2 separate regions of the Homo sapiens genome follow, and region 2 is linked to region 1. Evidence: fine-mapped expression QTL. A gene starts in region 1. The other region holds a variant in brackets. All regions are shown on one strand. Distances are from middle to middle. Region 1 holds the start of MTMR7 (myotubularin related protein 7). Region 2 overlaps ZDHHC2 (zDHHC palmitoyltransferase 2).

Evidence for each region. PIP is the estimated chance that this variant, and not a neighbour inherited with it, causes the effect.
Region 2: its variant is fine-mapped to the expression of MTMR7 in skeletal muscle (GTEx, PIP above 0.99).

The regions. Positions count from the first base shown.
Region 1 is chr8:17,410,815-17,416,199 of GRCh38, reverse strand. It overlaps MTMR7 (myotubularin related protein 7), which reads left to right and starts at 2,849. Exons shown (of 14, transcript NM_004686.5): 1 at 2,849-2,931. The coding sequence starts at 2,908.
Region 2 is chr8:17,209,633-17,215,017 of GRCh38, reverse strand. It overlaps ZDHHC2 (zDHHC palmitoyltransferase 2), which reads right to left. Exons shown (of 13, transcript NM_016353.5): 9 at 4,960-5,086; 10 at 4,538-4,630. Among named protein-coding and RNA genes, the nearest start is that of CNOT7, 35 kb to the left of the region's middle. The variant G/C (reference allele first, on the strand shown) is at 2,640.

The DNA.
Region 1 (5,385 bases):
AGGTTCATCCATATTGTCACAAATGACAGGGTTTCATTCTTTGTGGCTGGATAGTATTACACTATGTATCTCTACAAAATGTTCTTTATCTATTCATCCATTGATGGACAGTTAGGTTGATTTCATATTTGGCCATTGTGAATAGTGCTGCAATAAACATGGGAGTGCAGATATTTCTTCAACATAGTGATTTCATTTCCTTTGGATAAATACCCACTGGTGAGATTGCTGGATCGTACGGTAGCTCTATTTTTCATTTTTTGAGGAAGCTCTATACTGTTTTCTATAATGGCTGTACTAATTTACAGTCCTGCCAACAGTGCATAAGGGTTCCCATTTCTTTGCCTCCTTGCCAGCATTAGTTATTGTTAGTCTTTTTGATCATAGTCAGTCTAATTGGGGTGAGGTGATAGCTCACTGTGGTTTTGATTTGCATTTTCCTAATCATTAGTGATACTGAGTATTTTTTCATAGACCTGTTAGTCATTTGTAGGTCTCATATTGAGAAATCTCTGTTCAGTTTTTTTTGCCCATTTTTAAATCAGACTATTTGGTTTTTCTGCTGTTGAGTTGTTTGAATTCCTTTTATATTCTGGATATTAACCCCTTGGCAAATGCGTAGTTTGCAAATATTTTCTCCCCTTGTGTAGGCTGTCTCTTTACTCTGTCGTTTCCTTTATTGTATAGAAGCTTTTAAATTTAATGTAATCCCATTTGTCTCTTTCTGCCTTTGCTGCCTATGCTTTTGAGTTCTTATCCCAAAAATCCTCGCCAAGACCAATGTCTTGAAGAGTTTCCCCTATGTTTTATTCCAGCAGTTTCACAGTTTTGGGAGGAGGCTATTTTAAAGCCTTGACTGTTCACAGAGTAAACACTCTTTTCATGCTGCCCTAGAATTTCCCTTTTGGCTGCTAGAAAAAGGGCAGAGCTGACTGCAATCCACTGAGTGCTTTTCCTCCACATCTTTGTTATAGGGCAAGGCCAACAGAGACATTGATACATTGCATCATTGAGTTCATAAAAATCCTGAAGAGAGGCCGCTTTTACTTTTTGCCAGGCAGAACCCCAAATGCAGCTCTGACCCTATCATACTGAGTGACTCCAGATGAGGCTGAGTTTATTCAGAGATGTGTTCCCTCCTCCACTTATAATATGGTCCATTTGGGTTTAATTACGCTGAATAGGATCGTATTGAGTTTGTAATAATTAGCAATACCATCCCTAAGGAAACAGGGTTTGGTCTCACTGCCAAATCAGAAGTTTGCCTTGCCTCAAGAGAAATATAAGTATTCTGGAAAAAGTCTTGCAAGTGTTTTTGATAAGAATTCAAATCTCCTCAGGCCATTGAATATCACAGGATTTTGGGAAAATGCCCAGTTAAAATCAAGGTTGTATTTTAAAATTCTGTTAGCAAAAGTATTTGCAACTGAATTATCTATGTGATAAAAGTTGCATAAGAAGAATTCTCTAGAAGACGTTTGGTAACTTGCAATCAAGTAGTTTAGGTCTTGCTTATGGTTAGGTGTCCCTAGAGATCTTTAAAGGCATTACCAACTCCCTCTTTAAAAAAATCACAAACACAAAGGTAGAGACAGTGCATTATTTTGACTCTCAAATTCCCTTTCCACTTCAACATAGTATAGGCTAGGCTCAATTCAGCGTTAAAGTTCAGTGGCTTTATGTGACAACAACAACGAAAGTGTTCTTTTCACTTCCAAAAGAATCAGCTGTGGCTTTCCAGAGTAGTTCTTCTAATAATGTAAACTAATGGTAAACTTGTTCTAATTGCCTCCCAAAGCAGTAGGAGGATGAAATGGTAGAAGACCTGTGAAAGAGGGATCTGGAATTTTAAAAATAAATTCAACACCGTATTAATTATTTGCTGGAAGGCTGCAATGTGTCCAGGTATTAGATAAAAAAACGGTAAGCAGAGTCTCTACGGAAAAAAAAAAAAAATCACAATCCAGCCTGAAAGATGAGTAAGAGCGAGGAAAAAATTGAACAGAACTATGTAGAATTCTATAAAATTTCACTTATGGTGGAGCATTGTACTCTTAGGGCTGCAAGAAAAAAAAAATGGAGGGCGTTCTTCCTCTCTTTGGCTTTTCCCAAGAGGCCTAACGCTAACAATGGCACCAACTACTGTTAATACCATCAATAGGGAAATGGTACCGCATAATGGATGCTTTGTATCTCTATCTCTCAGTTCAGTTGGAGCTAAATAAAGAGGGCAAATGAGCACCCAACACTGTGCCAGGGGAAAAGTGTCGCCTGCAACAGTGAAGTCGCAGGTGGATGTGAGATGCCTGACTTAGGAGCGCGCTTACCAAGGCGCTAACACTGCTGCTATTATTTCCACCCGCACCCCGAGCGCTATGCCGGCCGCGCCTGGGATGAAACACACACATTGAGCCTACAAGACCGTCCTGGGTCTAGAGTGTCTGTGGCAGCCTTCTTTTCTGCCCCACCCTGAAATCCTAGCTATCCCAGGACGCCCTAGAAGGAAGCCCAGGGACGGTGTGGAGCAGCCTGTACTCCCCATCTCTCTTCCAGGAGGCCACACCCAAAACAAGGCCCTCTTTGTGTCTCGGAGAACAGTGGCCGTATAGTGCTCCGCCGGCTGCCCCTGTTAAGAGAGAGCGAGCAGCCCTCGCCCCGGCAACCCCAGGCAGAGGCGCGTCGCGGCGGCGGCGCAGGTGGGCGCAGGCGCGGAGGTGGGCTCTCTAGGGCCGCGCGGGAGCCCCGGGTCCGCACGCCGCGCGCGGAACACCTGGGGGCGGAGCCAAGACCGCGTCCCGCCCACTCCCGGGCGCGAAGCCCCCTCCCCGCGCCCCTCCCATCGCGCCGCAGAGGCGCGCAGGTGCGTGAGGCCGCGCCCGCCCGGGACCCTGCAGACGTGGGCCAGCCATGGAGCACATCCGTACGCCCAAGGTTGGTGACACCAGCGCGGGCGGAGGAGGGACGGGAGGAGATGGGGGAGGAGGAGGAGGGATGCTGAGCGCGCGGGAGGCCGACTGCTTTGAGGGGCACCGGCGGAGCCTGGACCGCGGGCGAGGGAGGAGCAGGCATTGCCTGAGCATCCCGGGGTGCCTGCGAGCCCGGTCGTTCTCTTGCTGCCTCCCAGGCCTAGCCTTAGCTGCTGCTGGGTCTGACCTCTTGGTTTTGGGGGAGCGCAGTGGACACAAGGGTGAACGGGAGGGAACCTCAGTTGTCTGCTAGTAACTGGGTGTAGATCAACCCTTCTTTCTCCTGGCACGAGGCTTTCTCTTTTAGCTGTTGGCCGCTCAGAGTAGTTGAAAGGGAAATAAGCCTTTCGGTGACAGGTGCAAGGAAAACGAGCTAAATGCAGAGGGACTCCTGCGCTTGGAAGCTTGTTAAATCTAGGGTGTCAGGCCCACCCGGCTCGGCCTTCCCAGTCAGCATCCTCATCCTGAGCGTAGCAGCTGCAAGGGGCCTTACACAGAACGGATAATCAATATTCATTGTAGGTTGAATGATGGTGTGTTCTTGCCTTTTCCAGTCCGTTTTGTTCGTTAGAGAAAAGGATGCAGCTTACGGATTCGTCACGCACTGTTGTGTTTTAACAACACCAGCTTTTGCTAATTAACAAAAGCAAATGGTCCCTGATCACTCCAGTAAATTAACATTGGAAACGTTGATCGCTGTACCAAATCTTCCTCCTCAGTTGTACTGATAATCTAATTTAGAATGAAAATGATGATCGACGTTACTGCATGATAAAAACCCTAAACGAGTGAAAGAATATGCTTAAAAACCCTATTGGCTGTCTGTTGTTACTACCACCACAGCTCCTTGCGTTTTTGCAGGATGAACTTCCATTCAAAATGTAGGCCCCTGACAGGTCAAAGCTAGGTCAGAGTGGCCATAGCTCAGGTGGTTCCAGGGATCCCACACATTTAAGAGGGGTGGGGGCAATTGCTTTATGGCCAGCAAGAATTGATTCCTAAATTTTGGAATAGTTCCTGAGTACCTTTTTGTAAAAGCAGATTAAAATGATCTCATGTCATTGGAAGAAGAAATCTTTTAGTTTGCTGGAGAATGTCAGTTCCGACAGTAAATTTAAATTGTATTGATTTTGCACTAGGGAATTAAGTTGTCGCTTCACAATCATGAAATTGTAAACTTAGAAGACAATGCTACAAACCACAGAATAGGTGGCTCAAAGCTTTCAGAGTTTAAGTGGTACTAAATAATTTATTCCAGAAGGGTGAATTTAACTCATGGACTCTGCCCTTGCCAAGGGCATTCTTCCTCCTTCCATGATGAAGGGAGCCGTTTGTAAAAGTGATAGCTGTTGTGGATATTGATAGCAAGAATGATACAGTGACATGGCAGTGGATGCCACTTTGTTAGAGAATATGAATTTGGGGGAGTCAAGGCCTTTTCTGTTCTATATACAAAGCCACCTGGTACAAAGTCACGTGTGAACCTGAGTTGCAAGCAGTGTTCTTACTCTTAAAATTGGTGTTTATGGATACCCTCTAAGCAGTGCAGTACTTGAAGTCAGAAATCCTTATTTATCTGGAAATGGAAACAAATTGGGGGAAAATGGAAAATTGTCTGAAGTGTTACTGAATTGGGTGAGTCATTAACATTTGGGATAAAGCTGGTGAAAAAAATAAGAAATTACAGAGGTTGGATGGATCGGATTCATTTATTCATTTATTTTATTCTACAAGCATTTAGAACCTTTCATGTGCCAGGCTCTGTGTTAAGTGCTGGAAGCGTCCAGGAACTCACAATCTCTAAGGGGAGGCAGTTGTAAATATGTCAGTGTATGATAGAGACATGTGCAAGGTGCAGTGGGTAGAGAGGGAGACTGAAGAGAGGATCAGCTCTGCCCTCAAGGTCAAGGGAAGCCTTCTTAGAAGAGCCGTCTTAACATGGAAGGACTTAAGGAGGACTAGGAGCATTTTCAACAGTGGTCATGTACTTGTATAAATATATATTGTAATAAATAATTACAACCCTAAAGAAACTGAAAACAATAACAATGGTCAAAGATAAATGATTCCTTGAGGTTAAATAACATCCTCCTTTTGTTTTACATTTTTAAGGGCAAAATTAATTTTCACAGTCTAAATGAAAAAGAGAACAACATTACTTACAGAGCTTGCAGAGTTAAATATATAATTGTTACTGGTCATATTCATCTTTATTATTTGCTTCCATTATACTTGGTGAAACTATAGGTAAATTTCCTTCGATTTCATGGTTTCATGTCTTGGGTTTGCAAGGAGTGTATACAAAGTTTGTTTTTCTGGCCCACTGTGGGTTTATAGCAATATTTACTGTGTGGGTAGTAGAGTTTTAAGAGGAAAAGAATTGTATGCATGTATAATGTACAGTTGCTTTTCTGTTACA
Region 2 (5,385 bases), 200 kb after region 1:
CATAAGATGATAATCTCTAACACTGGAAAATCTCCAGAGAATAGTCTTCAGCCCCAGGCTTTAGCAGGTACTTAGAACTTAATAACAGTATTTTATTATCAATTTTATGTATGTATTTATTTTTGAGGAAGAATCTCACTCTATTGCCCAGGCTGGAGTGCAGAGGTGCAGTCATGGCCTCAACCTCCTTCGCTCAAATCAATCCTCCTCCTTCAGCCTCCCGAGTAGCTGGGACCACACCACCACCCTCAGCTAATTATTTTGTTTTATTTTTTGTAGAGTGGACTCTCTATGTTGCCCAGCCTGATCACAAATGCCTGGTCTCAAGTGATCCTCCTGCCTTAGCCTCCCAAAGTGCTAGGATTACATGCATAGGCCACCACACCGGGCCTATTTTTAAAGTTATATTCTATTTATAGAAAGTTACGCGAGTTTCTCATTTATGAGAGTGGTATAAACTTTGGTTTAAAAAAAGCATAAGTGCCAATTTAAATACAGAAAAATATTAATTTTGTAAGTGATATGTGGATATGGAAGAAAATATGAATGTGATGGTAGGAAGACAAAGTTGAGGAAAAAATGGCCTACAGCTTCTAAAGTGGCCTAACTGGTCTTGAACACAATTTTCTCTATCTTCTTCTGTAAAACTGAAACAACAACTTTGAGCAAACTATTTTGCAGGAATATAAAAAACATCTGAAATTATCAGGTCTTACAAACCCAATGTTCAGTCTGGGGAATGAGCAGTCTTCTAAGAAGAATTTTCTTTAAAATTTAGGTGGAAATGCCATACATCAACATATTGGATGGCATGAAAAAGTATACATAAAAATATTTCACTTAGGAAACATTATTGGCATAGAAACTATTAGTGATGTTTTATAATGTTCTGAAATAGTAATTGTAACAGTATTCAAAAGAAAAAAACGACTTAAAACTCTTTCAAGAATAATTTCACATATTTGAGTTCAATTATATATAGTAACTATTATGTTTTTAAAGGATATATGCGTATGCTTTTTCTTCTTAATTACCTCATATCTAAAATTTTAGAATATTTCAATTTTGTGCAGCTTTAACAACTACCTACTAAAATTTTGGAGGTAAATCTTAAAAAACAGAAAACAGCATATCTCCACACAGGTTTAAATATATTATATAAAAAATCTTACTTTAATTCTTATTCTTCTTCAAGAAAGGGACCATATAACGGGTACAGAAGACTAACCAGATCCTGGGATCCTGGTTTAGGGACTCTGAAGATTCATTACTGCTAACAGGACTCTAGCAAAGGGCAAGAATCCATTCACTGAACAATGTTTATTGAGCACCTGTCACTTTAATAAACAAAGTCTTTGTTCTTATGGAAATTTCACTGTTATGGAGGAAGAGAAATAAACAATATATACATATATGAATGAAATAAGTCAGGTGATAATAAGAGCTATAACAATCAAAAAAATCAGGCTGGGCATAGTGGCTCATGCCTGTAATCCCAGCACTTTGGGAAGCTGAGGCAGGTGGATCACTTGAGGTCAGGAAGTTCGAGACCAGCCTGGCCAATATGGTGATACCCCATCTCTCCTAAAAATACAAAAATTAGCCGGGCATTGTGGTGTACATGTAATTCCAGCTACTGGGGAGGCTGAGGCAATAGAATTGCTTTAACCTGGGAGACAGAGGTTGCAGTGAGCCGAGACTGCGTCACTGCACTCCAGACGGGGTGATAGAATGAGACTGTCTCAAAAAAGAAAAAAAAAGAAAAAAAAAATCAGTGTAACAGGAAGAGGCGGAGAAAGTTACTATTTTACAAAGGGTTATCAAAGATTCCCTCTATTCTGAAGTTACGCCCGAACAGAATATAAATAAAGAGAAGACACAGCTCACTGAGATCTGGAGGAAGAATGGTAAGGAAAGGGAATTAGCAAGGACAAGGCACTACATAAGGAACATGCTTGGTCCATGTGAGGAACAGCAAGATCTGTGTCTGAGGATTGTAAGTGAAAGGAAAGTAAAAAAGAATGACATCCAGAAGGCCAAGGTGAGAGGACTGCTTGAGCCCAGGAGTGTGAGGCTGCAGTGAGCTATGATCACAAAACTGCACTCCGGCCTGGGCAACGGGCTGTTAATGGAGACATTTTATTATAACAGAGACATTACTAACTTGCTTTAATAGAGACAGGAAGACCCTGTCTCCATTAAAAAAAGAAAAAAAAAAGAATGACTGTCTGGGGTCAGATCAGTCTTGTTAAGTGATGGAACAGACATTCATTAGCTTTTATTCCGAGTAAGATGGGAAACTAATAGAGCTTTCAGCAGAAGAGTGACACAATCTGACTTATATTTTGAAGGGAAAATAGATTGGAGTGGGGCAAAAATGTTACATCAGTTAGAAAACTACTGAAGTAATCCATGGGAGCAGGGATGAGGGCTAGGACCAGGAAAGCTGCCTTGGAGGTGGTTAGAAAGTATTCAGATTATAGATATACTTTAAAGAGACATCTGATAGGATTTGCAAATGGAGTAAATACAAAGTAATTGAAAGAGAGGAATCCAGGATGACCCCACAGTTTCTAGCATGAACACGTGGGAGAATGGAGGTCACTAATACTGATAATGGAAGCATGGAGGAGATTCTG[G/C]TTTAGGGTGGTGATGAGGGTACACATGGCTGGGAATCAAATTCAAAGTTCTGCTCTGAACCTGTTTAGTTGGAGATGATTTTTAGGTGTCCAAGTGGGTGTGTCAAGTAGACAGCAAGATATTCAACTCTGGAGTAAAGAAGAGAACAGAACTTGCCACGAAAATTTTATCTGGGCTCAACATGGGAGATAGTAGAATTCCGCAGAAGAAAGAGACTTTAGCTGTCTAAATCTGACCTCAACATTCAAAGGAAAGGAAACAGAGGCCTCAAAAGATTATTTAACTTCTTCAAGATCACCCAGTTGGGTAACAGTGTCAGAACTAAGATTTCTCCCAAATCTCATGGTGCCCTTAGTGGAAGGAGAAATATTATCTCTAAAACCAAAATGATTTCTTAAATTATTAAAAAAAACACAAAGGGCAAAAAAGTATTATAAACTACTACTGAATTTTGTAAAAGCTTGAAACGTATTCTGAATAATTTATTAAAACTAGATTTTTCTGCATTGAGGTATATGAAAAACCATAAACATTTAGCTCTGTGGGATTTTCAAGCCCAAATGCACAAGGCATGATCTAGTAAAAAACTCTGATGCCCATGAATGTCCCTGTGAAATATATACACTGGGCCCATTCACTAACTGGTAGGGTCTGGCCTGTACATAGCTCACTCTAGGGATGGGGTGACAAATACCTTTCATCTCTTTTGACAATTTAAAAGGATTTTAAATATAAATTCCTTTTACATTTAATTCCCAATTTAAAAGGGCAGAGGCAGGAGGATCGCTTGATCCTGGGCGGTCATGGCTGCAGTGAGCCATGATCACTCCACTGCACTCCAGCCTGGGTGACAAGAGAGACCCTGTCTCAAAACTAAAATGGAAACAAACAAACAAACAAACAACAACAACAAAAAGAACTTTAGAATGGCTACCAGGAACACTGCCTTGAGGTTTATGGGGTCACTCCAGGCTCCCTAGGAAAAAGTCCTGTGATCAGTAAGAAATGTTCAATATGGAGTGTTGGTGTGGATACTGTGTATGTGGCACTGCAGCAACTAAGAAAAGCTCTAACGTTTAATGAAGAATGATATTATGGTTATGCTTTTGCTACTGGCTTTCATTGAAAAATCAGAGGAATGGTTATACTCAAATCTGTCACAAAGGTATAAAAACTGGTGTTTCAAACCACTGAAAATTCATACATAGCATTTTAAAAGTTTAAGTAACTTTTCCTTTTGCCAGTTGGTAGCACGTTCAGAATGAAATGTCAGGTCTTTCTCTGGCCAGCCTCAAATTCTTGATAGTCTGGAATCAAAACAAACTTAAAGCTGGAGCAAAAGTCTCCAGACAATGAATTTCTAAGACTCTGGCTTCTCTCTCCACAGAAATGGCTCAGATAATCCTTAGAGGTCTTCCAAGGGCACTAAGTCCATAATATACATTAAAATGGAGTTGTCAAGAAGGTGTCTGGGGGTCCATTTGATCTCCAAAAGCCTCAAGTTTCTTTACTCTAACAGTTATCACAGAAAGGAAAGATATGGTGGGTCAGGGGCGATTTTACCCTGTCTGCCTACCTGAGCAGTGGGTAGCTAATTTTGACTTACATTTTTTTTTCTTTTAAGCACTACATTTAAAAAATATTTCAGTCAACCAAAATGTATAGACAATTAACACCTTTTTACTCACACTTAGATTAATAACACCATTTTACAAGTATAATTGAAGCTTCCAATGTATCCTCAATCATACTTTCTTTTTTCCCTCATTTCAAGTGGAAACCATTGCAGTAAATTTTCTTATGGTCTTCATTTTTTTTCAAAGGAACATATAACCAAAAGACACAATATGGTAAAATATCTTATTTGAAAGTAAAATGAAAAAAAATATGAGATTACTTTTTAGCTGTGGAATTCAGCCCTGCAGGAGTAGATGCTTGTTCAGGATCCTGGTTAACAAGGCAAGTTGGAAAGGAGCAGCCATCACCTAGACTAGAATTAAAATAAAAATTTAGAACTGAACCATACAAAAGACAACGGAGTGAAACCCTGCCAAAATGCTGATGTCCGAGAGCAGAACATGCTATACTCTAGGCAAAAAAAATGTGTATTAGACATTGAGCTCAACATAGTGTTCAGGAAGATGATGAATTAACTGACTTCCACACTGATATTATGGTGAATCATAGAATAATATTTTTTAAAAATAAGAGTTCCTACACAGAATTACAAGCCTATGGAACTAGAGGCTTTTCCTGAAACTATCTTTTGCTGTATTATTTTCATTAGTTTAAAGCCTGAAAATTTTAACAAAGAAGTACCTTGAAAAAATGGGTAGCAACCAGTACTTCTTCTCATCACCAAAAACTTGTCGCATGTTTTTACTGAAACCCAAGCTGAATCCATTCTTATCTGTTCCATGTCGAAATACTGGACTTCTGAATGCCTCTAAAAAAAGATGGTAAAGGAATCACATGAGTAAAGAACATATTTACTAGCAATCCTGAATATTTATCAATAATTGAAGTAAATGAAGAAACTCTGAAAATCAATGGCTAGCTGACTGTGAGGGCTTATGTGCCTGTCAACAGCCCTGAAATATAGGGTGTCCATTCTGTTTTAAAATATCATAAGATATACCTATTTTAATTTTAAAATATGCCTTTTTATTATAATAGTACATGTGCATTGTAGAAAATCAGAAAATACAAACTAGCAAATAAACTAAAACTGCATCTTCTGGATCT